Homo sapiens: one gene and its partners. The protein of the gene in region 2 interacts with the protein of the main gene of each other region in a pairwise test. Each region holds a gene or a part of one and is shown on either strand. Other genes may lie near its edges.

Region 1 (6,858 bases), on a different chromosome or scaffold from region 2:
CCCAGAGTGCTGGGATTACAGGCGTGAGCCATGGTGCCCAGCCTGGTAATTAACAGATACTTCGTGACCACCCACTATGCACCAGGCCCTGTTCTATAATTCAGATGAAAATCCCTGAGAGGAGCTGACGTGCTAGCAGGGGAGGCAGATAGCACCACAAAAAAAAAAAAAAAAAAGCAAACAGAAGTCAAAAGGTCATAGAGAGGTCAGGGGGTAGGTGCGATGGTGGTCGGGGAAAGCCACTTGAACCTCATGGCTTTGAGCTGTCCAGATGCGGGAGAAAAGAGAGCCAGGCAAGGGAATAGGCATTGCAAGGGCTCTTGGCCAGAAACATGCCTGGAGTGATCCAGGAACGGCAAGGAGGCCCAGGTGGCCGGAGCAGAGTGAGTGACAACAGGGGTTAGGGGGAACCCTGAACCTCCCCTGAGTTTCCCTAGTCTGTAAGATGGGGGTCTCCAACCGGTGGCCCCAGGGCCTTATCCAACCACTGGATATTTTTCATTCTGTCTACAAAGTGTTAAGAAAACGAAGTTACCAACATTTAAAAATCAGGGCCGGGTGCAGTGGCTTGCACCTATAATCCCTGCGCTTCGGGAAGCCAAGGTGGGAGGATCACTTGAGACCCAGAGTTCAAGACCAGGTTGGGCAACATAGCGAGACCCCCGTCTCTAAAAAAATTAAAAAATTAGCCAGGTGTGGTGACGTGCATTTGTAGTCCCAGCTACAGGGGAGGCTGAGGTGGGAGAATCACTTAAGCCCAGGAGTTGGAGGCTGCAGTGAGCCATGATTGGACCACTACACTCCAGCTTGGGCAACAGAGCAAGAACTCACCTTAAAAAAAAAAAATCCGGAAGGCCGGGCTCGGTGGCTCATGCCTGTAATCCCAGCATTTTGGGAGGCTGAGGCAGGCGGATCACTTGAGGTCAGGAGTTGGAAACCAGCCTGGCCAGCACGGTGAAACCCCGTCTGTACTAAATATACAAAAATTAGCCGGGCGTGGTGGCACACACCTGTAATCCCACCTACTCGAGAGGCTGAGGCACGAGAATTGCTTGAACCTGGAAGGCAGAGGTTGCAGTGAGCTGAGATCGTGCCACTGCACTTCAGCCTGGGCGACAAGAGCAAAATTCCATCTCAAAAAAAAAACAAAACAAAACAGGAGATTTCATCATAAAAATCTCCATTTCTAGCTTCTGTGGGTGAGTGATGACGTCAGAGCAGCACAGAGGCAGGTGTCAGGGAGCCTGTGGACTCTTGGCCACTGTGTCACCTCACATGGCTCCTGGAAGCCAGGCGGACAGTGATACGTCCACAGCCACACCATCCCCATGGTGGTGGGACAGGGTTACCTGCCAGTGCCCACTCTTCTCCCACAGGTGCTGAGACCACAGCGCTGTTCCACAAAGCCCCAGGAAGCCACATTACCCTGTCCACCGGCCTCTCTAGCCCCATCTTGCCCAGGAAGTGGGACCTTGGCGTATCGCTGTGACCACACCTCCCAGCCGGTCAGCCTGGCCGCTCAGGCTCTACCTGCAAAGGCAAGGCCCCACCCAACCAGCACCCCTCTCATGGCTGGGGGTGCCTCCAGGCTGCCCTCTCTAGGGCCAGGAGCCTGCAGAAACGCTCCCAGCCTTGAATAAAGAGCAACGAAATTATTGAAACAAAATCAATAAAAGTTTGAATCAGGGATGGTATAACATGCTCTGGCTTTGATTCTGTGCTTTAATTCAGCGTTCCTGAAAAACTTATGATGTCAGAAACTATCTGTAGGTTTGGTTTTTTTCATTTTGCAAGAATTCCCAGGATATGGAGAAATCACAGCCACTCACAGCCTTAACAGGTTCTTTGGGCCCAAATGATTCCAAAAGCAAAACGAGAGAAACTTTTTCAAATATGTTTATTATGTATATTATATACAATATATTAATAAAACATATTACCTACATGCATTTAAAACATAACTGAAGTCAGATTGGCCCAGAAGACTCACTCCAAATGAGACCTAATCCCCAATAGGGTGCAAGTGACTGCACAAACTCTACTCCTCACAGCCCTTCCTAAGACTCAGTGTGCTCATCACACTAGGGTCTCAGAGTCCTTCTGACCATAAACCCAAGCCCCAGCGCCAGCCCAACACACACTTGGACGCAGCATGTTCACGTCCAGCCTAGGAAGAATTTATGGTTGACCTGGATTGGGTAAAAACCGTAAACGTCTGTACCTCAGAATGTAAGATCATGGTGTTTAAAACTACAGAACATTCAGAGGTTGTCAGAAGTCTCTAATTGCTGGTCCCCCAGGTTGAAACCAGCCCTTAGGTTGAAATTTTGACCTGCAAATTTTTTTTTAAATCTGAACCAAATTTTTTAAATTAAACCCCTTTAAGGTAGTACATTTTCAAGATGCAAAATTCAAAAAATATAAGAGGGCACGTGATAATGAGTGAGTCTCACTTCCACCCCACCCTCCAGCCTCCCAGTTTCCCTCTCCAGAAGCCATGGGTATGGATGCCAATCTCCAAAAATATTTTATTCATTACAAGTATATACATATGCATTATTTTACCGCTCACAAATGGTAGCACACTGCACGGTTTCCCAATACCTTGTTTTTTTTCCCCTTAGCAAGCTGTCTGGGAAATACTTCTGTATCTAACCACGGGCAGGGGTGTTCCTCCAAGATTTTTAGACAACAGTTCTCCAGTTCACCCCGTTCCGGTGAAGGGCAGAGCACCCCCCGCCCTTCCCAGCCACCCTGTACACGCCCCTACTCGCTCTCGGATGCCTGCAGTTCCCAGGCTTCCCAGCAGAGGGAGACACCATTCCACTCCCAAGACCACCAAGGGGTCGTCCCAGACACAAGCTTCAAGGGTCTAGGGAAGAGACGCTATCCGCCCAGACACAAAGACCCCCCTTAGCTATACTGAGTTGGCCTCCGGGCCTCCCCTTCCTGTTTCTATCTCCTCCTGGACCTGTTGCTTAGAGCCCTACCCCGAGGTCCCCCCGCCCGGCTTCCTTATGGGAACTGGCCCCGCCTTAAGAGTGGTAGGAGGGAGCCTTACCCTTGTCTAGGACCTGGGCTTGACAACTTGCCCCAGGGAACCACATAGAGAAGGGGTGTAGCGCTGGGCGAACATTGCCCTCCCCGATCCCTCAGCGATGACAAGTGGGGGGTCCTTCTCTCTGCCCCCAGCAGGCCAGTTTCCGGAAGAGCCTTGACCCAAACCCCCTTTTCCTGTCCTGTGCTCCACACTCCCAGCAGCTGCTTCTCCCTGGCCAGGCCCTGCAGCCCTCCTCCCCGCCCCCACGGTGGTGTTGGGGTCGCCTGGAGTCCAGCTGGTGTCCAGGGCAGAGCTACCCCTTTCCTGGCCCTACCCCTCCCCGTGACCCCAATCCTCCGCCAACCGCTCAAAGGATCCTTGTTCTCCATCCAGCCCCCAGACAAAAGTCCCTCTGTCTAAGAAGGCGGAATTGAGGGGAGGGGGCACCCCCAACTGGGACCATGGGGGAGCCTGCACAGACCCCATCCGGAAGGAATGCCTGGAGGAGGAGGAGCAGGAGACAGGGGAGGAAAGGGGGAGGGAGGCTTGTACAGTGCTGGGGGCCTTATGTGGACTAGGAGGCAGCCGCCCCCACCAGCACCCACTCTGTAGACCCAGGCGTCTGGCTCCCAGCACCCACGGAAAGAGCCTGGCTAGGAAACTGCAGCCTGGTGCCTGGCAGACAGTTCTCATTCTCCCCAGGGCAGGGAGCAGGTTATGACCAGGACTAAGGTCCCAGAGTCCCCACCCTGACCCCTCCCTGCTGTTCCAGCCGCTCCCTCATATCCACCCCTGCCCCATCTCCTGACTTTGGTCACGCTAGCATCTTCTGCTGATCCTGAAATTGTACCAGCGGCAAGATGTGGCCTGGAAGGGGACTTTAAGTTCTCCACAACTGCCAGCAATCCTTCCACCAGGCAAAACACATCATCTAAGGAAAAGAAGTGAGGTCGGAACACCAACGCATCATCTCACTGCATGGCCCTGGAGGCTCTGCCGTTTAAAGACCCCAGAACCTTCCCCATTCAAGGTCCTCTCCTGGGCACAGGAGATTGGAGAAAGCTCCTCCCTTAATTCCAGGGGCCGAGTTCCAGCCCATCCAATTCTCCGTCTCACCTGAGGCTGCTGTGGTCCTGGTGACCCCAGGGAGCAACCTGCCGCCCATGGCTGGGGAGGGGGTGAAGCTGTCTCTTTAAGAGCAGGAATGGAGCCCCTGGGCCTCAGGGCATCTGACTTGTTTTCTACCTGCCCAGGTTTGCTTAGGGCGTGGCAGCTTCGGATAAACGCAGGACTCCGCCTGGCAGCCCGATTTCTCCCGGAACCTCTGCTCAGCCTGGTGAACCACACAGGTGAGCAGCTGGGGCCCCTTCCTCCAAGCCCTCCTTGTCTCTGCCCCTAAATTAGGAAGTATCTACCTGCCCCCTGACCCTGCCCCATAGAAGCTTTTATGTTAAAGCGCCTAAAATCTTGTGAAATGCTTTTCTGGAGCCAGGAGATAAACGGAAGTCCCTTCCCCTAATGTCCCTTTCCCCACCATTCTCCTCTCAGGGACTTGTTGAACCAGCTGAGGTGAGGGCAGGACTGATAAGTGTGGTTGGGGTGTCTGAAAGACTAGTGTCTGCATGGATTAGGGATATCTGGGTTGGGGATAGCTGGGTGGAGGAGAGGGGGTGCCTGGGTAGGTAGGGGTATCTAAGTGGACCAGGGGTGCGTAGATGGACTGGGGACATCTGGGTGGATGAGGAATGCTGGGTGGACTCGGGGTGTCCAGACATTGAGGGATCTGGGTGGATAAGGAGTGCTGGGTGGACTCGGGGTGTCCAGACATTGAGGGATCTGGATTCTGGAGACCTCCAGGAAAAAAGGATGGAGCTGCTGGGGGAAGCTTTAAATGGGGAGTTGCTTGGGAGATTTCAGGAGCACACAGCGGGCAGGATCTTTCTACCCACCCCTGAACATGAGACCATTCTCCCATGGTATGGAGGAATAGAGGGGATAGCAGAGGGCAGGTGGGGGAAACAGTCCTCAGGCCGGCCTTGGGACCTCATGGCCAGGAAGGATGAGAGCAGGTAGACAGAGCATCAGCTGCAGGGCTGCCTTCCTCTCTAACCTGCTCACCAACCACATCAGTTCGGGAGCAGCCCACAGCCTCTTCAGACAACAGCCTGAATGGGGAACGTGAGGGCAGACCCAGCTCCCGGCTCCCTGCAGCCTCCGGAAGCATGGGACTGGACGTTGTTTTGCAGAGGCTGGGGCGAGGAGGATACCATCTGTCAGTCTTGGCTGGATGACATCATGGGAAGGGGGTATAGTGGGGCCTTGCAGGCCAGAGGTGGCTTGGAGGAGCCCCTGGAAAGAGGCTTAAGAGGTGAGACTCAACAGCCATGGCGACAGAGCATAGGGCTTTAAGATGAATTTGCAGGGGTTACAGGATTACAACTGCAATGTGGGCTAATAATAGTGCCCCCTGCATTAAGCTGCAGAGATTGAGCGAGTAAGTGGGAAGCTGAGAAAATGCCCCCATGGGGTAGACACTCAATAAGCATCTGCTGTTATTACCAGGACTCGTATGGTCATGGGTGACAGCTTCAGACCACAGGCAGTCCACCTACAACCTGTGCCCCTATCCAACATGCCATCCTGCCCACCCACCCACGCCAGCTCCCCCAACCCCCAACACTTTTGGGGATCCTAAACACTTCCTGGGCCTCAGTAATGCTCCCCAAAGCCTCAGGCTTTCTTCCCGCAAAAAAAGGAAAAGAAATGGATGCTCCAACTAAAATTGTGAGTTCAGCATGTGGAATTAACTGGGAAGCTGAGAGGATTCCCAGGCCCTGGGGTGCCAGGCAGAGGGAGGAGTCTGTGCCAACCTGCAAGGACCACCCGCACCGTTGGTTGCGGGCACCACCCTCTCTCAGCATTTTTGCTGTTCGTGAAATGAGGACATAGTGGACGACGTCGGGGATTGCTGGGGGGTTAAGTGAGTGAGAACACGGCAAGGTCAGTGTGCACTCCAGGGCAAGGTGGAGGAAGTGCCAGCTCTCGCTATCAAAATTATAACTAGGCCAGGCGTGGTGGCTCACACCTGTAATCCCAGCACTGAGGGAGGCCGGGGTGGGTGGATCACCTGAGGTCAGGAGTTGGAGACCAGCCTGGCCAACACAGTGAAACCCTGGCTCTACCAAAAATGCAAAAATTAGCCGAGACTGGTGGCACACGCCTGTAGTCTCAGCTACTCAGGAGGCTGAGGCAGGAGAATCACTTGAACCCAGGAGGCAGAGGTTGCAGTGAGCTGAGATTATGCCATTGCACTCCAGCCTGGGTGACAGAGTGAAACTCCGCCTCAAAAAAAAAAAAAAAAAAAACAATTATGATAACTATGCACTCAGCATTTGGGCAGGGACAGGGCAGGGACAGGGCAGGGGAGGGCATGCTCGGAGGCCAGGGCTTGGTGCAGCCTTGCAGGCTGGTGAGAGGGCAGGACTGATGCCAGGTCAGGAAGGAGAGAGAAACGAGTTCCTTATGCTGAGCAGGTCTACCTGGGAAAGAGAAAGTGTTTGCTGTCACCAGGAACTCTGCTGGGCCTAGGGTAGGGTCAGGGGCTGGGCTGGGGACCCCGGCTAGGCAGAGCCAGGGCTGGGACCGGGAAGGGCATGGGTGTGGGATGAGGGGCAGGAGGTTCGGGGGAACAGAGATGGAGCTAGGGCTGCAGCCAGGAGGTAGAGTCCCCCTCTACCCCCAGTCCCAGCCTCACGTCAATTCCTCCACACACCACCCCACCCCCAAGCAGCTTGAAGAACCTGCTCAGTCCTCAGCCT
Region 2 (7,316 bases):
CTTAAAAATGTTCTTTATCCTCTAATCTCATGGTAAGACCACATCCATATTCTCCAGCCTGTTGAACGGAGCCAAATGCCCCACACATCACTCAAGAGCCCTACCACTCTTTCCTCCCCACACCCGTTATTGTCTCCCTCCTTTCCCTGCTTCTGTTACTCTCTGGCTCTGCTTTCTTCTTCCCATTTTCTGTATCTATTCTTCATCTACTTGAGAACTATTTGGGGATCTCACTTCAGATTTACCATGGCTGCCTCCCAGCTCTGCACAATCCATTTTAATTTTATTCATGTCTTCCAAAACAGGCCCTCCCTGACCTGGGCTGAGGAAACTGGCCAGGCTGAGTCCCTGATCTCCACCATGGCAGGAAAAAATGATATGCCTGTTTAAGATATAAAAGCATTTTTATGGGAAAAAGTACAAAGTTATCACGACAAGCTACAGGTAAGAGCCTGATTGAAGGACTTGAATCTCTAATCCAAAAGCTACATGCACAATTCTACTTAATCTTACTTAGCTCACAGGGCAAATACCAAGGAATAAATCTCATTTATATTTATATTGTAAAAATACCACAGGTTTATCAAGTGTTTAGATGTAATACCCTGCAAGTTCAGAGACTTTATGCTTAATGGAAATAAAACATTATTGTTTTGCAATGGGAAGTGTAACTAATTTTGACAGAGCAAGAACCTGTAGGTTACAGACATTGATTATGAGAGGCTTATAAAAACACTATGCATTTAAATGTTTGGTATAAAATTGCACAGCTCAATAATGAATTCTGGAGGTATCTATTCCTTTAACCCAAAGAGTCTTTTTTCTCCAAACCCAATATTTTTAAAAATAACTATTTGCCTCTACAGGATTTAGAAAACAGTGATACATAAATGCTCTCTGCAAGACATTATTCTCTTTCATTTACTGAATAGTTTCACAAATACCTGTCCTAATATGGTACAATCTTCAATATTATTACATAAAAAAGAGGTTCAGAAGTATTCATTGAATGGCACCATTTGTGTTAATATACAAACATAAATAGGTAGATGTATAAACCGTTATTGCCTCAAGAAGACCCATAGACTGGGCAAGAGGAATACCTACTTTCCACTGTCAGCCTTTTAAAATGTATATATATTTTCTTAGTAAGAGACTGATAAACTGAAATACAGACAAACAGATGGACACATACACACACACACACACACACACACACACACAAAGTGAATAGGTAATCCTAATCCTATATTTAACCAATGATTTATGTGACCAATTAAACTTGTAAAAATATAGAACAATGCCCTCAAAAGAATCAACTCCAAGAGCAAAACAGCTTGATTTATTATTAAAAGAGTATATAATTAGACACACTTATATTCTGTTCCTGAATAGAATGAAACAGAGAGGCCCTACAATTTTGTAGCTTGGAAATTTAATGAAACATTTAAAATAATTATAAGGCAAGATGACTTATGTTACTTGTTTTATCTTGTAAAATTTTCTGTTGAAGAAGGTACTCTAAGCAGAGGCTAAAAGACAATATTTGAGATAATATTTCAGTAAGATTAAAATTAGAATTAAAACTGTCCTCCAGTGAACTGAACTTTCTCAAATTACTGGGTAACCCATCGGCTATAGAAAAATTATTTTCTTAATTAAAAATAGGATGTAATATGACCTACAGGAAGAGTCAATTGAAGCTGTTGACAATTCCAAATCCATTAACCGTAAGATTGATTTTGAAGATTATTGCAGGCAATTTTATGAAAAAATAAATATGAGGTCACATTGAAAAAATAAAGACAGTTAATGCCAGAAAAATACCAGCCACCTGGTATCAGATAGGTACAGTTAAGAAAATGATTAACATAATTATATACAAAGAATAATTTGTATAATTTGCCATCATGTACATGAATATACTTTAAATAATTTTACTTCTAAGAATAATCTTTCATAGAACCATTTGTGATCTATTACACAATAAAACAAATTTTGGATGACAAATATATATTTCAAAATATTATTTTAAGATGCTATAATTCCAATGACTTTATTACCTCCTTTTACTTTCAAAATTGTCCTGGGTTAGAGGACACATTGCATTATCACCCTAGTGGGAGAGACCAAAAGACACTGATCAGCTCAGACATTATAGGGTCTAGTTTCACTACCCCACAGGTACTCGACTTCCTCTTTCTCACTCTTATCTTATAATTTATTTAAATGAATATTATGTGAGAAGTTTAACAGGGATGCAGAATATTTGGAGATTTTTCCGTAACCACTCTCAGTCAACAAGAAGTTGAAAGCTTTCCCAGACTTTTCACTAACAGAGAAATATAAGGATTATTGCCCAGCCATTTCTTTGCTTTGCAAAGGCTGGCTGGATTTAAAATTAAAATTATATGTCAAGTTTCATAACCTTCAGCAAGAAGGATTCCATTTGAATAGCATGTTCCAGGGAAGGGTCCCTTTGAGAATCCTATGTAAGGAAGAAAGCACAGTTAGACAAGTACACAAATCAGCAGTACAGTTAAAGAATATACAACCTAGCTACATGAAGTTTCTTTCAGGACAATGGAAAGTTTAATTAGGAAAACAGTAAAATTTTCTATAACAAATGAGAAAATCCATATGCCCATCTTTATAGAACAAAATCCAACAGTCCTGCTTTTAAGAGATGTAGTTTAAGAATAATGGTTACCTTCTTAACATGGTCAACTCAGCCAAATCCAGCACTACATCTAAAGTTAAAATACTGGAAGCACACCCGCTTTAACATCAGGAGCAAGACAATCATCACTCCCATTCTTGCACAGTATATTTGTTAATGTATTCAGAGCAATTAGACCCTTCCCCACAAAAAAAAGAAACAAAAAAAGGGTGGGAGAAGGGAGGGATGGAGGGATGGAGGGATGGAGGAAGAGAGGAAGGGAGGAAGAGAGGAAGGGAGGAAGAGAGGAAGGGAGGAAGAGAGGAAGGGAGGGAGGGAGAGAGGAAGAAAGGAAGCAAAGGAAGAAAGGAAGGAAAGAAGGAAGGAAGGAATTTATAAACAATACCCTGGATTAAGGTTCAACAAACATTTTCTGTAAACATTTACTAAAGATAGTAAATATTTTAGGTTTTGCAGATCATACAGTCCCTGTCACAAGCACAGTTGACCCTTAAACAACATAGATTTGAATTGTGTGGGTTCACTTAGAGAAGGATTTTTTTTTAATATATTCCTTCATATGGGCAAGTTCTGTATCCACAACCAAAAGTGGATCAAAAATACTGTGTTCACGGGATGCCAAACCTGCATATGCGGAGGACCAACTTTTCATATCTGTGGGTTACGCAGGGCCAGATATGGGACTTTGAGTGTGCACAGATTTTGGTATCCACTGTCCTGGACTGTACCGGACTTTGCTGTTGCAGTGCAAAAGTAGCCATAGACACTAGTAAGCAAATGCACATGGCTGCATGCCATCCGCCACATCTCTCTCTACTTAAGGACACTGAAATTGAATTTCATATAACTTTCACATGTCACAAAATATGATTCTTTTGGGTTTTTTTCCCCAACCGTTTAAAAATGTCAAAACCGTTCCTGTTTCCTGGGCTGTACAAAAAACAGGTATGCCAAATTTGATGACACACTGCCTTACGTTATTTTAACAGTAATTAAATAATTACTCTCAATTAATTCAACAGTATCTAACTATTAGATAAATTTAAACTTATCTAATGGCCTGTTTTTCTAATTTTTTGTGCAGTAAAGGTTTTATAGAAAAATTGTAAAGAATAATCAAATTATGAAAATGTTCAACTTTAAAACAGAATTTTTATTTCCTTCTCTCTCAAAAAAAAAAGGACCCAATCTCTTTAGCTGTTAATTATATTCCTGTAAACAGAGTAACCCTTAGGAATTTCTATTTGAACAATGGCATGCACACAGTTCTTAAATTCATTCCGTTTTCTTTCTTCCTTTTCTTTTTTTTTTTTGTGCTGAACTTCAGCCAAACATTAAACTACCTTGGGAAATAAAAGGTAAAAGAGAAAGAAGCACAAAGATGGTATTTGACCTTATTTTATGAGGACATTCAATCTTAATTTAGAGAAAAAGAATAGAGCTTTTTTAGTGTGAGAAGCATGAGAACTGGAAAGAAGTACAGAGTTTTTCAGACCAGCCTATTTTTCTAAGTTTGTTTTCCGGTAACTATGCTCTTGTTTCTATGCAGGTGAGGTTGTAGGTCAGGTGTGTGTGTGTGTGTCTATAAATCCACACCCATTTTTAACCAGAAACATCCAGAATACATTTCCAACAAGAGCACTGGCCAAGTCAGGTAAGCAAGCAAATTTTCCAGATTACTTAATCAGTGGTCAAGCTTTGCTATATTTAAATAATCACCTTTTGCTATTTAAAAGTGAAGCTTTCAGTAAAGGGTAGGAAAGTGAAATGAATTTTTATTTTTCTTCTTTTACTGAACTGGATTTCCTTTGCTGGTTTCATAGTTTTATCTCTATTTATATTAATGGTATTAGAATAAATTGACGTCAACCACAAAAACGACTCTTTGAAAAGTATTCTACAAGTAATGATAGCTCTTCTTTATATTCTTTTAAGTCTTGTTTTATTTTAAAATATAGGAACTTATAATATCAGTTACTTACGTTAAATTACTTTTGAAAAATAAAATACTAATGTCATAAAATGCTAATTGACCAATGTTTATACAATCTAATTGCTGACATATGGTTATGTGCCTCCCAAATGCATTTTAAGCTGCTGTAGGCCTGTAACCATGCCACATTTATCTGTGTTCCCCCAAGTAGCTTAACCTTGCAACTGATACTAAAGGACCCTCAGCAGTTTACACTATATTTTACCAAGGAAAGCGTTATTTATTCAAAATCTACAGTGTACAAGTTGTACTGCTTTGTCACAGAATATATTTAATATCTATTTTATAATTTATCAATGTAAAACCAGAAAACCAAGATTTTTATTTTTTAATTAGAAAGTATTTGACAATAATACATAAAGACTTGAAATTTTAAAGAAAAAATGGTTCCCGCTTAACTCTAAGCTTCGCAGCTTTAAAATAGCAAAAATGATGAGGTTATGCTTTTTCTTTTTTAAAATGCAGATTCCACCTGCTTGTCTCTGTAGCTAACATAGAAAAATCTTTCTAAAGATTCCTTCCAGATTGACTTTTCTTAACTCTTCTTTATATCCAAGATCCCTGGAAGAATTTTAATGACGTTTTGGACCCTATTCCCACGGAAAAGGAACAGAGGCAGATAAAATTTTGCACACAATTTCCAGGGGTTTTGAGCCTTCTGTAGCTCAGCCACAGGCCTTCTAGAAGCCTGCTGGATCCAGGTTAAGATCCTGTCCTAGGTGGTTGCTTTAGTTCCTCCACTGCAACTCCCAACCTGTCTAACTAAGGCTGCCTTCCCTGGGTTGAGCTTTGTGTTCCAGAGTCAACTGTCCCTGTCCTGTACTAAAATCCACCCTGTATTTGTTTCAGTCTTTAAAGTACAAGATGACCAAGGCCTTAAGGTACAAGATGACATTCTGAAATGTTTTATGGTTTAATAAGTTATGAGAACTTAAACTGAAATTCTTATCAGGCACCGTGATAATTGTTTAACAGGGTTTTTATATGCCTGGAAAGAAAGGACAGGAAAGGAGGGGAAAGGAGGGGAGAGGAGGGGAAAGGAGGGGAAAGGAGGGGAGAGGAGGGGAGGGGAGGGGAGGGGAGAGGAGGGGAAAGAGGAGGGGAAAGGAGGGGAAAGGAGGGGAAAGGAGGGGAGAGGAAAGGAGTCCGGGCGATGTAGCTCACCCTTGTAATCCCAGCACTTTGGGAGGCCGAAGCAGTTGGATCATTTGAGGTCAGGAGTTTGAGATCAGCCTGGCCAACATGGTGAAACCCCATCTCTACTAAAAATACAAAAATTAGCCGGGCATGATGGTGGACACCTGTAGTCCCACGTACTTGGGAAGCTGAGGCAGGAGAATCGCTTGAACCTGGGAGGCGGAGGTTGCAGTGAGTGGAGATGGCCCCACTGCACTCCAGCCTGGGTGACAAGAGCAAAAAAAAAAAAAAAAGAAAGAAAGGAGAGAGAAAGAAAAGAAAGAAAGAGAGAGAGAAAGAGGAAGGAAGGAAGGAAGGAAAGAAGGAAGGAAGGAAGGAAGGGGAAAGAAGGAAGGGGAAGGAAGGAAGGGGAAGGGAAGGAGGGAGGGACAACTGGGGATTAGGGAGGGAAATAAAGTAAGGTTAACCTGGAGTGGTAACTATTTTCAGTCCATAGAGGGGCTGCAATAGATACACCACTGGGAAGGGGAAAACAGTATAATGGGAGGAATGAGGAAATGTCTGGAGAAATCTAGAATCTGTAAACTTCTTTACCACCAAATTGTTGTTCTCCTCCACGACTGCGGTTGCTACTTTACAATAACTAGGTGATTAAAATTGCCAAATGTTTTACCAATGCCAAAACATTGTGTCTTATATATCTTTTCATTTTCCACAATGCCTACTACAATAAAATATAGCAACATCTTTGTTTGAACAGAATCACTAAAGAATCAGTCACTAGCCATTTTGGCTAAGGAAATTTTACTATTTTGGTGATGAGTTCAATACTAAATAATGTAAGCCAATAGGAAAGACGTCTTAAAGGAACTTCAAATCAATGTGAATGATGTCTGTATATTTATTTTATATTTTGAGGTAAAGTTTCAAAACTGCATGAGTCAACCATTTTCAAATCAGTTTTATATGCTAATGCTGTAACTAAACATCTCACAAGTATTAAAGACTTCCTGTAATATATTTATCAAGTGGTTTATGACCAGATCAGGCCCAACTTTGGACTTCAGTTTTTATCTTAACGTGCAAAGTATAAAAGATGCACATTGAGTTAAGAATCAGTTTGAATTCTAGCTAACCAGGAGAGAATGTAATCATGACAGTCTATTCTTCTCTATACATATGTCTAATTTATAGTAATATGATAGTACTTGATTTTTATAAAGAGCTGTATCATAAACTGAAGGGCAAAAGTCTGAGTAATTGTTGGAAGGATGAGAAAGGTAAGAAACTATAAAGGAACTGAAGGACAAGAATCCTCCATATTCTATTTTTCCTCTGATTTCTATTTTAAGCAATATTTATTCATGTATAATCTTATCTTAGTATAGAGTTAAAATATTTTGACCTATTAGATGAAGGAGAATCAAAAGGCAAAGAATATTTCTGCATGCTAAAAGTCACTTCATAGTTTACAAGACATCAAACAACATGATCTTATTTGAGTTT
Region 3 (7,024 bases), on a different chromosome or scaffold from region 2:
ATGTGGACAGATATGTAATAGAGAAATTACAGTAAAATGCTGATTGTAGAATCTAAGTGATGGGCAGATGTGTGTTCACTGTGTAATTCTTTCTAGTATTCTGTATGTTTGAAAATTTTTATAATAAAATGCTGGGAACAAATACCTTTATGGATCCAAAAAAAGCAAAGAAACAAAGTAATGAGTAAGGCTATGCCATGGTTTCATGGTTCTCAGTCTGGCAGCAGACAGTGGCAACCAAGCCTTCATGTACTAAGGAGACCAGCATAGGCTGTCTTCTCCAGACAAGGGCCAGAGCCAGGTTTATAACTTGGAACCAGGAGCTGGATTAGGTCAATACAAAAATACGCAGAACTGTCGTTATAAGACTTGGTCCTAGGCTGGGTGCACTGGCTCCTGCCCATAATCCCAGAACTTTGGGAGGCTGAGGAGGGAGGAATGCTTGAGCCCAGGAGTTCGACACCAGTCTGGGCAACAATAGCGAGACCCCATCTCTACAAAAAAAAAAAAAAAAAAATGGAAAATTAGTTGGGCATGGTGGTGTACACCTGTGGTCCCAGCTACTTAAGAGGCTGAGGTGGAAGGATCGCTTGAGCCTGGGAGGTCAAGACTGCAGTAAGCAGAGATTGTGCCACTGCACTCCAGCCTGGGCAACACAGAGAGATTCTGTCTCAAAAAAAAAAGGCCAGGCACAGTAGCTCACGCCTGTGATCCCAACATTTTGGGAGGCCAAGGTGGGCAGATCACCCGAGGTCGGGAGTTCAAGACCAGCTTGAACAACATGGAGAAACCCCGTCTCTACTAAAAATACAAAAAAAATTAGCTGGGCATGGTGGTGCATGCCTGTAATCCCAGCTACTTGGGAGGCTGAGGCAGGAGAATTGCTTGAACCCAGGAGGCAGAGGTTGCAGAGAGCCGAGATCATGCCATTGTACTCCAGCCTGGGCAACAAGAGTGAAACTCCGTCCCAAACAAAACAAAACAAAACAAAACAAAACAACAAAAACCTAGTCCTGGTCTGGAGGTCTAGGAATCTGGGTATAAATGAATATAAAATGTTTTTGCAATCTATCCATCTGACAAAGGTCTAATATCCAGAGTCTACAAGGAACTTAAACAAATTTACAAGAAAAAAACAACCCCATTAAAAAGTAGGCAAACCACATGAACAGACACTTCTTAAAAGACATTCATGCAGCCAACAAACATGTGAAAAACAGCTCAACATCACTGATCATTAGAGAAATGCAAATCAAAACCACAATGAGATACCATTTCACGCCAGTCATAATGGCAATTATTAAAAAAATCCAGAAACAACAGATCTTGGCAAAGTTGTGGAGAAAAAGAAACACTTTTTTTTTTCTTTTTTTTTTTTGAGATGGAGTTTCGCTCTTGTTGCCCAGGCTGGACTGCAATGGCATGATCTCAGCTCACCGCAACCTCCACCTCCTGGGTTCAAGTGATTCTCCTGCCTCAGCCTCCCAAGTAGCTGGGATTCCAGGCATGCACCACCACGCCTGGCTAATTTTTTTTTGTATTTTTAGTAGAGACGGGATTTCTCCATGTTGGTCAGGCTGGTCTCAAGCTCCCGACCTCAGGTGATCTGCCCACCTCGGCCTCCCAAAGTGCTAGGATTACAGGCATGAGCCACTGCGCCTGGCCTAAAAGAAACACTTTTGCACTGTTGGTGGGAATATAAATTAGTTCAACTATTGTGGAAGACAGTATGGCAATTCCTCAAAAATCTAGAGGCAGAAATACCATTTGACCCAGCAATCCTATTACTGAGTATATACCCAAAGGAATATAAATCATTCTATTATAAAGATACATGCATGCATATATTAATTTCAGCACTAGTCACAATAGCAAAGACATGGAATCAACCCAAATGCCCATTAGTGATAGACTGGATGAAGAAAATGTGGTACATATGCACCACAGAATACTATGCAGCCATAAAAAGGAACAAGGTCATGTCCTTTGCAGGAAAATGCGTCAAGCTGGAAGCCATTATCCTCAGCAAACTAATGCAAGAACAGAAAATCAAACATTGCATATTCTCACTTGTAAGTGGGAGCAGACAGTGAGAACACATGGACACATGGAGGGGAAACAACACAGACTGGGGCCCATCAGGGTGGGAGCTGGGGGAGGGAGAGCATCAAGAATAGCTAATGGATGCTGGGCTTAATATCAAGGTGAATGGTTGATCTGTGCAGCTAACCACCATGGCACACATTTACCTATGTAACAAACCTGCACATCCTGCACATGTACCCCAGAACTTAAAAGTTGAAGGAAAAAATAAAATAAAATACTCAACTAAAAATAATAATAATAATAATAATTGCAAAGTGGATAAACAGTGAGGGTGATAACAAAGGGAGAAAAGTAACAAAACAAAACGAATCTTCCACTAAAATTTAGGTTGAAAACTAAAGTTTCAAAACACACAAGTCTAACACTGAAAGATAACCAATAAAATTAACAAATGAAATAAAAATTCACTTTTGATGACTCTGATTTTATAAAAGAGTTGGGTAAGACTGCTCTGGTCCTGCCTAACAAAGCTGAAAAGCAAGCCTCTAACAGACTAAACTATTTCTGAGTAACTTAACAGTGACCCAGAATAAAGCTCAAGAATATTTAGAGGAATACAAAAATATCCAGCACCTAGTAAGGTAAAATTCACAAAGTATAGCATCTGATAAAAAAACATTAACAGGCATGCAAAGAGCAGGAAAACAGTACCCACAATGAGGAGCAAAACTCTATAGAAATAGATCCAGAAATCATACAGATACTTGAATTAGTAGACAAGGATATAAAAATAGCTCCTAGGACTATATTCCATATGTTTCAGAAGAAAAGTAATGACTGCACATATGATATAGAGGCATGGAAGATATTTAAAAGGCCCAAATCAATATTTAGAGATGAAAAAGATAATGTTTTAGATAAAAAATATAGTGGATGAGATTAACAGCAGATTAGGTATTGCACAATAAAAGATTAGTAATCTTGAAGACAACATAACAGAAAGTACTGAAATTGAAACACAGAAAGGAAAAAGACTGAACAACAACAACAACAAAAAGCATCAGTAAGCCAACTTTTAGTCAGCCATGTAACTGAAGTCTTAACATATCACTGAAGTTTGCAGAGGACAGATAAAGTATTTGAACACATAATGGCGAAAACCTTCCCCAACATGTTGAAAACTATAAAAACCTACAGACCCAAGAATCTCAATGAGCTCCAAGCACAAGAAACAAGGAAAATTACCTAAGGCACATAATAATCAAATTGCTTAAAACCAGTAATATAGAGAAAATCCTAAGAAAAAGAAAGAAGATATGCTACGGTAGCCAAAGAAAAGGAAAAAAAGATATACTACACATAGAGGAACAAAGATAAGAATGTCAGTAGCTTTTTAATATTAATAAGAAGCAATGGAAGGCAGAATATCTTTAAAGAACTAACAGGAAAAAAATCTTGTCAATCTAGAATTCTATACCTATATTTTTCCAAAGCAAAATAAAGACTTTTTCAAACATAACAAAAGCTAAAAGAATTCATCACCAACAGACTTGCACAACAAGAAAAATTAAAGTATGCCTTGGGAAGAAGAAAAATGATACCAAATAAAAATCTGGATTGATACAAAGAAATAAATAGCAGTGAAATGGTAACTACGTGAGGAATTATAATGCTTTTCTTATATCTCTTTAAAATATTACCTGAAGGTAGATGGTGATAAGTTAGAGATACATTATAAACTTTCAAGCAACCACTAAAAAAAGTTATTGCTAATAAACCAACAAAGGAGATAAAATGGAATCACATAAATTATTTAACTAATGTAAATGATGGCTGAACAAAGGGGAAAAAGAAACAAAAAACAGACTAGTAAAATAAAAGAGGGGAAAAGAAACAAAGAACAGACAAAACAAACAAAAAACGAATAGCAAGATGGTGGAATTAAATCTAACAATATCAATAATCACATTAAATGTAAATGTTTTAAACTCCCTAGTTAAAAGGCAAAGATTATCAGATTGGATAAAAACATAAGACCTAGCTATATGGTGCATACAAGAAACCCACTTTAAATAAAAAGACAAAAAGAGTTTACAAGTAAAAGGATGAAAAAAAGATGTATATGCTAACACTAATCAAAAGAAAGCTGAAGTAGCTACATTAATACCAGACAAAGTAGATCTCAGAGCAAAGACTATTACCAGGATCAAAGAGGTCCATTTCATAGTGATATAAGGGTCAATTCATCATGCACACAAAATAATCCTAAATGTTTATGTACCTATTAATAGAACTTCAAAATATAAAGCAAAAACTGATACAACTGCCAAGAGAAATAGATAAATCCACAATTATAGTCAGAAATTCTAATACTCCCCACAACTTCAATAACTGATAGCTCCAATATATAGAAAATCAGTAAGGACATCAAAAACTTGAATAACACTATCAACCAATTTGACTTAATTGACACTTATAAAACATCTCACCCGGCCGGGCGCGGTGACTCACACCTGTAATCCCAGCACTTCGGGAGGTCATCGCGGGCAGATCATGAGGTCAAGCGATCGAGACCATCCTGGCCAACATGATGAAACCCCATCTCTACTAAAAATTAAAAAAAAAAATTAGTTGGGCATGGTAGTGCACACCTGTAGTCCCAGCTACTCTGGAGGCTGAGGCAGGAGAATTGCTTGAATCCAGGAGGCGGAGGTTGCAGTGAGCCGAGATCATACCACTGCACTCCAGCCTGGTGACAGAGCGAGACTCTGTCTCAAAAAAAAAAAAAAAAACAAAAAACTCACCCAATAATAGCAGAATATATATTATTTTTAAGTGCATTAGGACATTTACCAAAGAGAGAATATATTTGGATTATAAAACAAGTCTCAATAAATTTACAAGATGTCAAATCATAAAAAGTATGCTAACCACAATGGAATCAAATTATAAATCAGTAACAGAGATATCTTTAAAATTTCCAAATATTTGGAAACTCAATAACAAACTTCTAAATAACTTAGAGGTCAAGAAAAAAATCAAAAGGGAAATTATTTTAAATTATGACCTGAATAAAAATGAAGACATATGTGTCAAAATGTGGGGGAATGCTGATAAAGCAGTACTTACAAGGAAATTAGAAGGCACTCAACATTTCTGTTCCATCTCCTGGAAGAGAAGACCAAATACAGCATGTTCTCACTTATAAGTGGGAGCTAAATGATGAGAACTCATGAGCCCAAAGAAGGGAACAACAGATACTGGGATCCACCTGAGGGTGGAAGTTAGGAGGAAGAACAGGAGCAGAAAAGATAACTATTGAGTACTGGGATTAATACCTGGGTGATGAAATAATCTGTACAACAAACCCATGACACGAGTTTACCTATGTAACAAACCTTCACATGTACCTCTGAACCTAAATGTTTAAAAACAACAACAACAGAAATCTCAACGTTATAAAATACAGGCCACCAATGAGTCCAAGTTTCCATCAAACAAACAAGTATGAGTTAACGCTTTAGATGCAGAATTTCTTGAGAATATACCCAGATGAATAAATATGATCTGATCTAGTGTTACATTCTATTCTCCGGCTTACAATCCATCCTCACATATATTCCTCAGGATTCCACAGATATAAATTAGCAAAATTTTGCAATTCTTTTCAAGGACAGACTATTTCTAGTCAGATCAGATTTTGTCCCTATACTAGGCAACATGCAGAGATCTGGGCCTCATGACAAGATAATAGAGGTAGCTCTTAAGTGTGGATAGCCCTTTGCAAAGAAACTACCCTAGGTGAGGTTATTACAGGATCTTCAAGCAAGAGAAGGCTAATTTTCAAAAGTAAGCAGCTTCTGTCAACAATGGAGGCTCAGAGTGACTGGAGTTTTTTTCAAGATTCTCAGCTCTGTCCATGTCTACCTAGATGTCCCCATTCCAAGTCTCAGGGTTCTACTTCTTTCCAAACAATATTCTAAATGAGACACTGACAAAGGCTAGGTAATTCTATTACTATCGCAGTTAAAACTGTGTTCAGGCACCTGCCACCATGCCTGGCTAATTTTTCTATTTTTTGTAGAGACCGAGTTTTGCCATATTTCCCATGTTGGTCTTGAACTTCTGGGCTCAAACAGTCTTCCTGCCTCAGCCTCCCAAAGTGCTGGAATTATAGGCAGTGAGCCAAAATCATGCCACTGCACTCCAGCTCGGACAACAGAGCAAGACTCTGTCTCAAAAATAACATAACATAACATAACATTACATAACATAACATAACATAACATAACATAACATAACATAACATAACATAAAACTGTGTCCAATTTTTAGCAAGTCTTTCCGTGGCTACACAAAATGAAGTGCTTTAGAACCATGGAAACTTTTTGATTCTCTAAGACTTGACCGATCTAACGCTTTGAAGACCTGAGTTTGTCATTTGCTTTCTGTCAGTGCTCCAGTGAACAAAGAAGCACCTATCTCACTTCTCACTTCTCCCTCAGTCCCTGTAGTCATCATTACTGCCATTAACAGTCAAGCGCTTTAGCCACTTGGTCCTCCAGCACACAGCTTCAGAAATAATTTTATCACAATCAACCAAATGTATCAATTTGATTGTGATGCCACTACATGTTGTGGGTTACTAGATTATTTCCCATTGGCAAAGAGCTAAAGAAATTACCAAACCGATGCCCCCAAATTCTATCTTTGAAAGTTTTCTCACCAGGATCCCATTCTTAGTGACAATTTCTTTATCAGTCAGGGTCCAGGCAGGAGTCTGAAAATGCATCCGTTATTTTAACAGAGAGATTGGACTTGATTTTTAAAGTTGTCAGCATCAACATCAAGAGAAATTTTCATATGAAAAATGTTAACCATATGTTGAAGAACTGAAAAGGCAAAAAGAGGACACTGAGTCCTACTTATGTGATAAGAAGTAGTAACAGCAGGAAGCAGCTATCACTCCTAGGACAAG
Region 4 (7,479 bases), on a different chromosome or scaffold from region 2:
CGATTTCGGCTCACTGCCATCTCAGCCTCTCGGGTTCAAGCAATTCTCCTGCCTCAGCCTCCTGAGTAGCTGGGATTATAGGTGCCCCCCACCACACCCGGCTAACTTTTGTATTTTTATTAGAGACGGGATTTCACCATGTTAGCCAGGCTGATCTCAAACTCCTGACCTCAGGTGATCCACCCGCCTTGGCCTCCCAAAGTGCTGGGATTACAGGCATAAGCCACCACGCCTGGCCTGTTTTTATCTTTTTTGCAGTCACTCCAGAGTCAGTAGTTAGCAGAGTAGGAGGAGGAAATCAGGTGAGGCAGAACTTGGAGGGGAGATTCCAGGACTCTTCTCATCTTTATCCCATTTGTATGCAGAGGAACAATCCTGCACCATGACTCAACAGCCACTTCGAGGAGTGACCAGCCTGCGTTTCAACCAAGACCAAAGTGAGAGAGGATTGGGCCTGTACCCTTGTGGGAGGAAGCGAGGAAAAGAGGGGTCAGAAGTGGGCCATGGGCCCCCAGCTTCCTACCTGGGCATTCTTTAAGGCAGTCTGGATTCCTTCCATCCCCCAGGCTGCTTTTGCTGCGCCATGGAGACAGGTGTGCGCATCTACAACGTGGAGCCCTTGATGGAGAAGGGGCATCTGGGTGAGCTGTTGGCAGGGGAGGGGCAATGGGCAGAAGAGCTGGGCTGGGCGTTGGCTCCCACCTCCACTGACACCCTGGTCCCTGTCCAGACCACGAGCAGGTGGGCAGCATGGGCTTGGTGGAGATGCTGCACCGCTCCAACCTTCTGGCCTTGGTGGGCGGTGGTAGTAGTCCCAAGTTCTCAGAGATCTCAGGTAAGTGCCCTCATCCTGCCCTTTGGCCCAGATTTCTCGGATTCCTGGCCTCCCACAGGCACCCCAAGGTACTGGCAGATGAAGACGTCAGAGTACTTCAGAGTCACACAGAGAGGAGGCCTACAGCTTGGAAGTCATGGATCTTATAGCTTGAGAAGCTTGGTGCTTTGTTTTCATTTTAAAAATTCTGATTGAGTGCCTCCTGTGTGCCATGCCCTAGAGCACTTACTGTGAGCCTGGAACTGCCCTAAGCACTTTACGTTTATTAACTCATTTAATCCTCACAGTAACTCTATGGGGTAGGAAGGATCATTATCCCCATCTTTACCGATGAGGAAACTGAGGCCCAGTGCAGTTAAGTGACTCATCCAAGGTCACACAAGCAATAGGTTTTAAAATCTTGGAGCCGTCTTCCCAATACCCCCTTGGCTTGAGCCTCAAGTGCCATCTTACTTTAAGGGTTTTTCTTGATGATCCCATCTGGACAAGGCAGGAGTTGCCCTAGGTGAGTCACAGAGCCCTAGGATTCCTCACGGAAATCTCCAGGGTGCATGGACTAGGACCCTGGAGGCAGAAATAGTTACCGAGGGGAAGTTACAGGCCTGAGTGTGAGTCCCTGTTTGGTTGCTGATGAGCTTTGAGGTCCTTGGCCAGACACTCAACCACTTTGAACCTCAGTTTCCTCATCTGTAGATGAGTGTAACAGTCTAGAACACTCCTCTCAGGGATCATATCCACAAGTGCTCGTGCTGTGCGAGGATCTCACTGGTTGTTTATTGAAAGGCTAAGCAAGTAGGTTGAGGTCCCTGGGAAGCAGGGGTGGATCCTGTGTCACCAGGGCTGCCCCTTACCCTAAACCTTGGCCCCGACAACCCACCCACCTGCCCAGCAGTGCTGATCTGGGACGATGCCCGGGAGGGCAAGGACTCCAAGGAGAAGCTGGTGCTGGAGTTCACCTTCACCAAGCCAGTGCTTTCTGTGCGCATGCGCCATGACAAGTGAGCCTGAGGAGGACCGGGGTGGGAGGTAGGAGGTCCCCACAGTAAGTGAGAGGGATAGTCCTCCCTGGGCATCCCGCCACCCCCTCACGGCCATCCTGTGTTGTGTGATACCCACAGGATCGTGATCGTGCTGAAGAACCGCATCTATGTGTACTCCTTCCCCGACAATCCCCGAAAGCTGTTTGAGTTTGATACCCGGGACAACCCCAAGGGTGAGAGGGCTCAGATACACAGGTGTAAGGGCATGAAACAGTGGATGGGGCAGAGGGGCAGAGATGAGGAAAGAAAGGAAGGGGCACTCACACACAGAGAAATGGGGAAAGAGGCAGGGAGATGCTCACACTCATAGCCTCTCCATCTTTCCAGCCCTCAGCCAGTTCTCCCCACCTCCGGACCTGCCCCACCCCTGGGTACCCCAGTGGCAGAGCAAAAACACCTCGTGAGGACATGGGTGGGTGTGTCAGGGATCCCTGAGCTTCTGGGGCTGTGATAGCAGCTTACTAGATTCCACAGCTGCAGAGCAAGGAATGGAATCTGCCTAGCTGGCGGGGCGTGCAGCTGAGCTGAGCCCCCTCAGGGTTCTTCGGGTTAAGCTTATCGTGGAGGGTTGAAGTCTGGTCCTCATCCAGCTCTGTCCATTCTGAGATGCTGCCTCCTCTTCAGCCGCCCACCCCACCCCCCATCTTCACACCCTAGGGCTCTGTGACCTCTGCCCCAGCCTGGAGAAGCAACTGCTAGTGTTCCCGGGACACAAGTGTGGGAGTCTGCAACTTGTGGTGAGCCGTCCAGTGGACAAGGGTGGGTAGGTTGGTGGACTGGCTTCCTTGTGGACTCTTGGCCCCTTCCCTCCATACCACCCCAACCTCAGACTCCTCCCTCCTACCCCAGGACCTGGCGAGCACAAAGCCTGGCACCTCGTCTGCTCCATTCACGATCAATGCACATCAGAGTGACATAGCCTGTGTGTCTCTAAACCAGCCAGGCACTGTAGTGGCCTCAGCCTCCCAGAAGGGTACCCTTATTCGCCTCTTTGACACACAATCCAAGGAGAAACTGGTGGAGCTGCGCCGAGGCACTGACCCTGCCACCCTCTACTGGTGAGCACAGGGTATGCATGGTGGGCTGGTGACCCCATACCACATGACATGTGGGCATCACTGCTGATCTGTCTTCTAGCATTAACTTCAGCCACGACTCCTCCTTCCTCTGCGCTTCCAGTGATAAGGGTACTGTCCATATCTTTGCTCTCAAGGATACCCGCCTCAACCGCCGCTCCGCGTGAGTACCCCCTCCCCACCCTACCGTGTCCCTGTCCCCCTGCCCATTTACCATACCTGGGCTTAGCCAGTGCTGCCTGCAGGCTGGCTCGCGTGGGCAAGGTGGGGCCTATGATTGGGCAGTACGTGGACTCTCAGTGGAGCCTGGCGAGCTTCACTGTGCCTGCTGAGTCAGCTTGCATCTGCGCCTTCGGTCGCAATACTTCCAAGAACGTCAACTCTGTCATTGGTGAGTGGGAACAGCCCCTTGGTTGGGGGTACTGCATGGGGCAAAGGCCTGCAGGTTGGACCTGAAAGGATTTTAGGGCCATGTGAGGCTCAGCTTCATCATCAGTAAGGGGGACAGCACTGGGCAAAGGCCTGGAGGCAGACCCTAGGTCCTGAGATGCCTGAGAGGACTGGAGCCTGTGGCTGTGGCAGCCTCTGACCTTTTACCACCCCCCCTCCCCCAGCCATCTGCGTAGATGGGACCTTCCACAAATATGTCTTCACTCCTGATGGAAACTGCAACAGAGAGGCTTTCGACGTGTACCTTGACATCTGTGATGATGATGACTTTTAAGGACCCTGGGGGCTGTGCTAGGGACCTGCAGTGGCAGAACTGCAGAGCTGAGCCTTGGCAGTGGGGCGTGCTTGGAAGCCACCAGCCAGCAAGCATTAATGGGGCTGGTGCCCACTTTCCACTCAGCAGAGCTATGTCTAAATAAAGAGCTCACTTCCCCCCAGCACTTCTTGATGACTGTGTGCCCCAAGGGCCAGGCCAGAGACCCAGGAAGGCAGCGACCCCTTGGGATCCCTAACCTGGAGGAAATTGCCAGGGACCCAGAGGGAGTGCCCTAATCCAACCTGGGGATTTTTTAAAAGCTTCCTAGGAAGAGATGATCTCCGATGTGATGAATACGAATAAAAGGCCCTTAATGGCATTTACGGCTTGACCTCAGGGGCGGGGCATGGAGTTTCCTGGAGAAATGTGACCCTCTTGGGCGCTGACAGGAAGGAGGTGGAATCCAACTCGGATCCTTGTGACAGTCCCTCCTTTCTTATCTGTCTGGCTACTTTGTGCTTGAGCCGCTGGCACCGCCCGGAGCAGCCCCTGCGGCGCCCCGCGCGGGGGTGGATGGCAGTTTTAAGGGTTGGGAGCATCTCGCTTCGTGGCAAAGGCTTGATTTCCCGGCAGCCTTTGCTGCTTTCCTGAGCGGCGTGTTAGTTGCTTTTCCGGTCACGTGCATCGCCGCCCCTGCGCAATCCACCTAGGAGGTTAGGAAAAAGCTGCCCAGCCCAGACTCCATTTCCCGGTGTGCCCCGCGGTGGCGAGGGGCGTAACGGTTGTTGTAGTCCGGCCCCCTCCTGGCTGGTCCAGCCACATTAACCGGCAGGATGTCGGAGGTGCGGCTGCCACCGCTACGCGCCCTGGACGACTTTGTTCTGGGGTCGGCGCGTCTGGCGGCTCCGGATCCATGCGACCCGCAGCGATGGTGCCACCGCGTCATCAACAACCTCCTCTACTACCAAACCAACTACCTTCTCTGCTTCGGCATCGGCCTCGCTCTCGCCGGGTGAGGGAGGGAGGCGCCGGTTGGCCAGGGACGTCTGCAGAGCGTGGGGGTAGACCCACAGGTCTTTGAGGACCAGGACGGGGAACCTGAGGGGGGTGCAAGGCCGGGAAGGGCGAAGTCAGTAGAGATGGACGGCCTGAGGGGCTTGGAAGGGGGGCCTTGAAGGAGGTGGAGCCTAGTTATAAGGAGGGCCTCAGGGAGATGGAGCCTGGCTGATGAGGAGGGCCTGCGGGGGATGGGGGTCTGCAAGGAAGATATGGGGAGGATGGAGACAAGTGTGGGACTGAAGGGGAAAGTGGGCTGGAAGGTGAACCGGAAAAAAAGGAGGGCCCGAAAGGGGGACATGAGAGTACTTGAGGGGCGTAGGGGGGGTGTGATGTGAATGATGGGGCCAGATTGAGGCCGACCCTGGAGTACTTAGGGCAGAGACCGGGAAATAGACGGTAAAGTTGGAGGGTTTGGAAGATGTATTTATTGGGGATCCGGTCTTGGAGGGGAGCCTGGCTATGATTGGAAGGCGCCAGGGGCAGGTACCTGTTGGGGAACTTGGGCCCAGGAGGAGGATCCATGGTTGGAAAGCCTGAGACCAGAGAGGGATGGAGAATCTGGAGGAAGGACTTGAGCAGTGCTGAAAGTTCAGAGTGGGGCTGACGACCTGGAAGAGGTCCTAGCAATGATGGAGGGAGGAATCTATAGGGAAATGGGAGCCTGGAGGGCGGTTCTATAAGGACCCTAGGCCTGGGGAGAGGGGAACGTGTGAAGACAGAAGGCCTGAAAGAGGGATTTGCAGGGGCTGGTGTTAAAGGGGGAGCTTGCGGGCAGGCTGATGAGGGGCCCTACGGGGGCAGAGTCGGAAGGAAAGTCCAGGGAAGTGTTGGGAGCCCGGGGGTGTGGGGAGTGTCTAGCAGGATGGGAGGGCCTGAAGCGGGGACCTGAGGAAGACAGGACAGTGGAATTGACAAGGAGGAAAGGAGGGGTCTACAAGGGTGAGTCGGGAGCCCTGGCAGATGGGCCTGCTGGAGATAGGGCTGGTGGGAGGATGTGCCAGGCTGGAGTGTCCGGAGACGGGAGACCCTGGCTCTTGGGGCCCAGGGTGGGTGGTGGTCCGGAGGCCGTCTCTCCGCCCGGCCGGCTAGCTTGGTTCCCTTGTACCCGCAGGTACGTGCGGCCACTTCATACGCTCCTGAGCGCGCTGGTAGTGGCGGTGGCCCTCGGCGTGCTGGTGTGGGCAGCTGAGACCCGCGCAGCTGTGCGCCGCTGCCGCCGCAGCCACCCTGCAGCCTGCCTGGCCGCAGTGCTTGCCGTCGGCCTCCTGGTGCTCTGGGTCGCGGGCGGCGCTTGCACCTTCCTGTTCAGCATCGCCGGGCCGGTGCTTCGTGAGTCTCCACTACCCCGAGATAGCCAGGAAAGCAGCCAGAGCATGCTTAAGGCACCAGGCCAGCCCTGCCGGTCCCCGGGTTGAGAGGGGGCTGGGAAACCCGAGGGCCTCGCCACGCCCCCGCTAAAAGCGCCTTCCCGGGCTTCGTTCCCCCTTCTGGGAACACCCCTTTTATTATCGCCTTTCCTATCTCACTCTTGGTGTTAAGTGCCTTCCACTGGCCACGTCCCCGTTACCGGGCGTCTTCCCTGGCCATGCCCACGTTGCCAAGCCAATTACTCGGCCACGCTTTCAGTATCTGAGGCGTCCTGGCTGCTCACCACTCCATTGGCCTGCCTGCGCGCCAATTCCCTTCGGTGGGCCCCGGTTGGCTGCAGGCTGAGGTCTATTCCACTGACCACCCCTCTCGGTGCCGCCCACAGTGATCCTGGTGCACGCCTCGTTGCGCCTGCGCAACCTTAAGAACAAGATTGAGAACAAGATCGAGAGCATTGGTCTCAAGCGGACGCCAATGGGCCTGCTACTAGAGGCACTGGGACAAGAGCAGGAGGCTGGATCCTAGGCCCCTGGGATCTGTACCCAGGACCTGGAGAATACCACCCCACCCCCAGCCCATAATTGGGACCCAGAGCCCTTTCCCAGCACTTAAAACAGGAGCCTAGAGCCCCCTGCCCAAACAAAACAGGACATCTGTGACCGCCCTACCCCCACGCCAGCCCCAAACTAAGATATCCCTCACACCCAGCCCCCATTACCTAGGGACAAGAGTCTTCCCCAGCCTTGAACCCAGGACCAAGAGCCACCTACATCCAGCCCCAAAACTGGCTTCAGGCCAGAGCATCCATGGCCAATTTCAAATTGTGAACCCAGAGACACTCCCATCCACCCTTCTCCATGCTCATCCCCAAACTGGGGCCTGGGGCAAGGCACTCTCAAATCTTGAACCCTGGACCAAAGCTTTTCCAGACCCCACCCTACCTTCCAACCCAGGTCAAGACATTGCCAAATCTTGAACTCAGAACCCAAGTGTTCCATGCCCCTGTGTGGATGGAGTCGGGTATCCTGACTGTTGGACCCCTGGTCCAGGTGATCCCGACCCTCACCAGTCCCATTTGCCTCCCTCCAGCTCTGCTTAGGCATTTTGCCCCTCACCCCAATGTTCCACACCATCGACAACCAAGGGGTGAGGTGGGGACAGGCCTCAGCAGGGAATGGGGCGTATATGTTAGTGTTGCTGCAACAATAAAGCCTGTTGCATCTCTCATGCCAATTTGAGCCTCCTGGGTAAAGTCCTTGTACATTTCAAAGGACAGAAGTGGCCTACTTTTCAATTCTGCTAGACTCTTCCTGAATATGTGGGCTGAAGAGGTGATCTCTGAGGCCCTTCCTTGAACTTATGACCTCTGGATCAGCATTAAAGCACAGGGAAGGA

The links.
Region 1: the proteins of AGR3 (region 2) and FXYD3 interact in binary tests that used the Homo sapiens proteins (3 or more experiments, as listed by UniProt).
Region 3: the proteins of AGR3 (region 2) and CGRRF1 interact in binary tests that used the Homo sapiens proteins (3 or more experiments, as listed by UniProt).
Region 4: the proteins of AGR3 (region 2) and PRAF2 interact in binary tests that used the Homo sapiens proteins (3 or more experiments, as listed by UniProt).

What each region holds. Positions count from the first base shown.
Region 1 is NC_000019.10:35,111,971-35,118,828, forward strand, and holds the start of FXYD3 (FXYD domain-containing ion transport regulator 3 isoform 1 precursor), read left to right. Parts: upstream 1-3,852; 5' UTR 3,853-3,989; exon of another isoform or gene 3,990-4,070; intron 4,071-4,293; 5' UTR 4,294-4,389; intron 4,390-5,286; exon of another isoform or gene 5,287-5,335; coding exon of another isoform or gene 5,336-5,408; intron 5,409-6,029; exon of another isoform or gene 6,030-6,154; intron 6,155-6,519; exon of another isoform or gene 6,520-6,629; intron 6,630-6,858. UniProt on the Homo sapiens protein: Associates with and regulates the activity of the sodium/potassium-transporting ATPase (NKA) which transports Na(+) out of the cell and K(+) into the cell.
Region 2 is NC_000007.14:16,878,962-16,886,277, reverse strand, and holds the start of AGR3 (anterior gradient protein 3 precursor), read left to right. Parts: upstream 1-4,294; 5' UTR 4,295-4,334; intron 4,335-5,522; exon of another isoform or gene 5,523-5,554; intron 5,555-7,316. UniProt on the Homo sapiens protein: Required for calcium-mediated regulation of ciliary beat frequency and mucociliary clearance in the airway. Might be involved in the regulation of intracellular calcium in tracheal epithelial cells.
Region 3 is NC_000014.9:54,512,905-54,519,928, reverse strand, and holds part of CGRRF1 (cell growth regulator with RING finger domain protein 1), read right to left. Parts: intron 1-7,024. UniProt on the Homo sapiens protein: Able to inhibit growth in several cell lines.
Region 4 is NC_000023.11:49,070,999-49,078,477, reverse strand, and holds PRAF2 (PRA1 family protein 2), read left to right. Parts: upstream 1-4,475; 5' UTR 4,476-4,490; coding exon 4,491-4,669; intron 4,670-5,827; coding exon 5,828-6,045; intron 6,046-6,469; coding exon 6,470-6,609; 3' UTR 6,610-7,317; downstream 7,318-7,479. Other genes in the region: WDR45 (WD repeat domain phosphoinositide-interacting protein 4), read left to right, coding at 383-437, 567-641, 731-835, 1,725-1,833, 1,954-2,048, 2,533-2,612, 2,725-2,933, 3,013-3,114 and 2 more. UniProt on the Homo sapiens protein: May be involved in ER/Golgi transport and vesicular traffic. Plays a proapoptotic role in cerulenin-induced neuroblastoma apoptosis.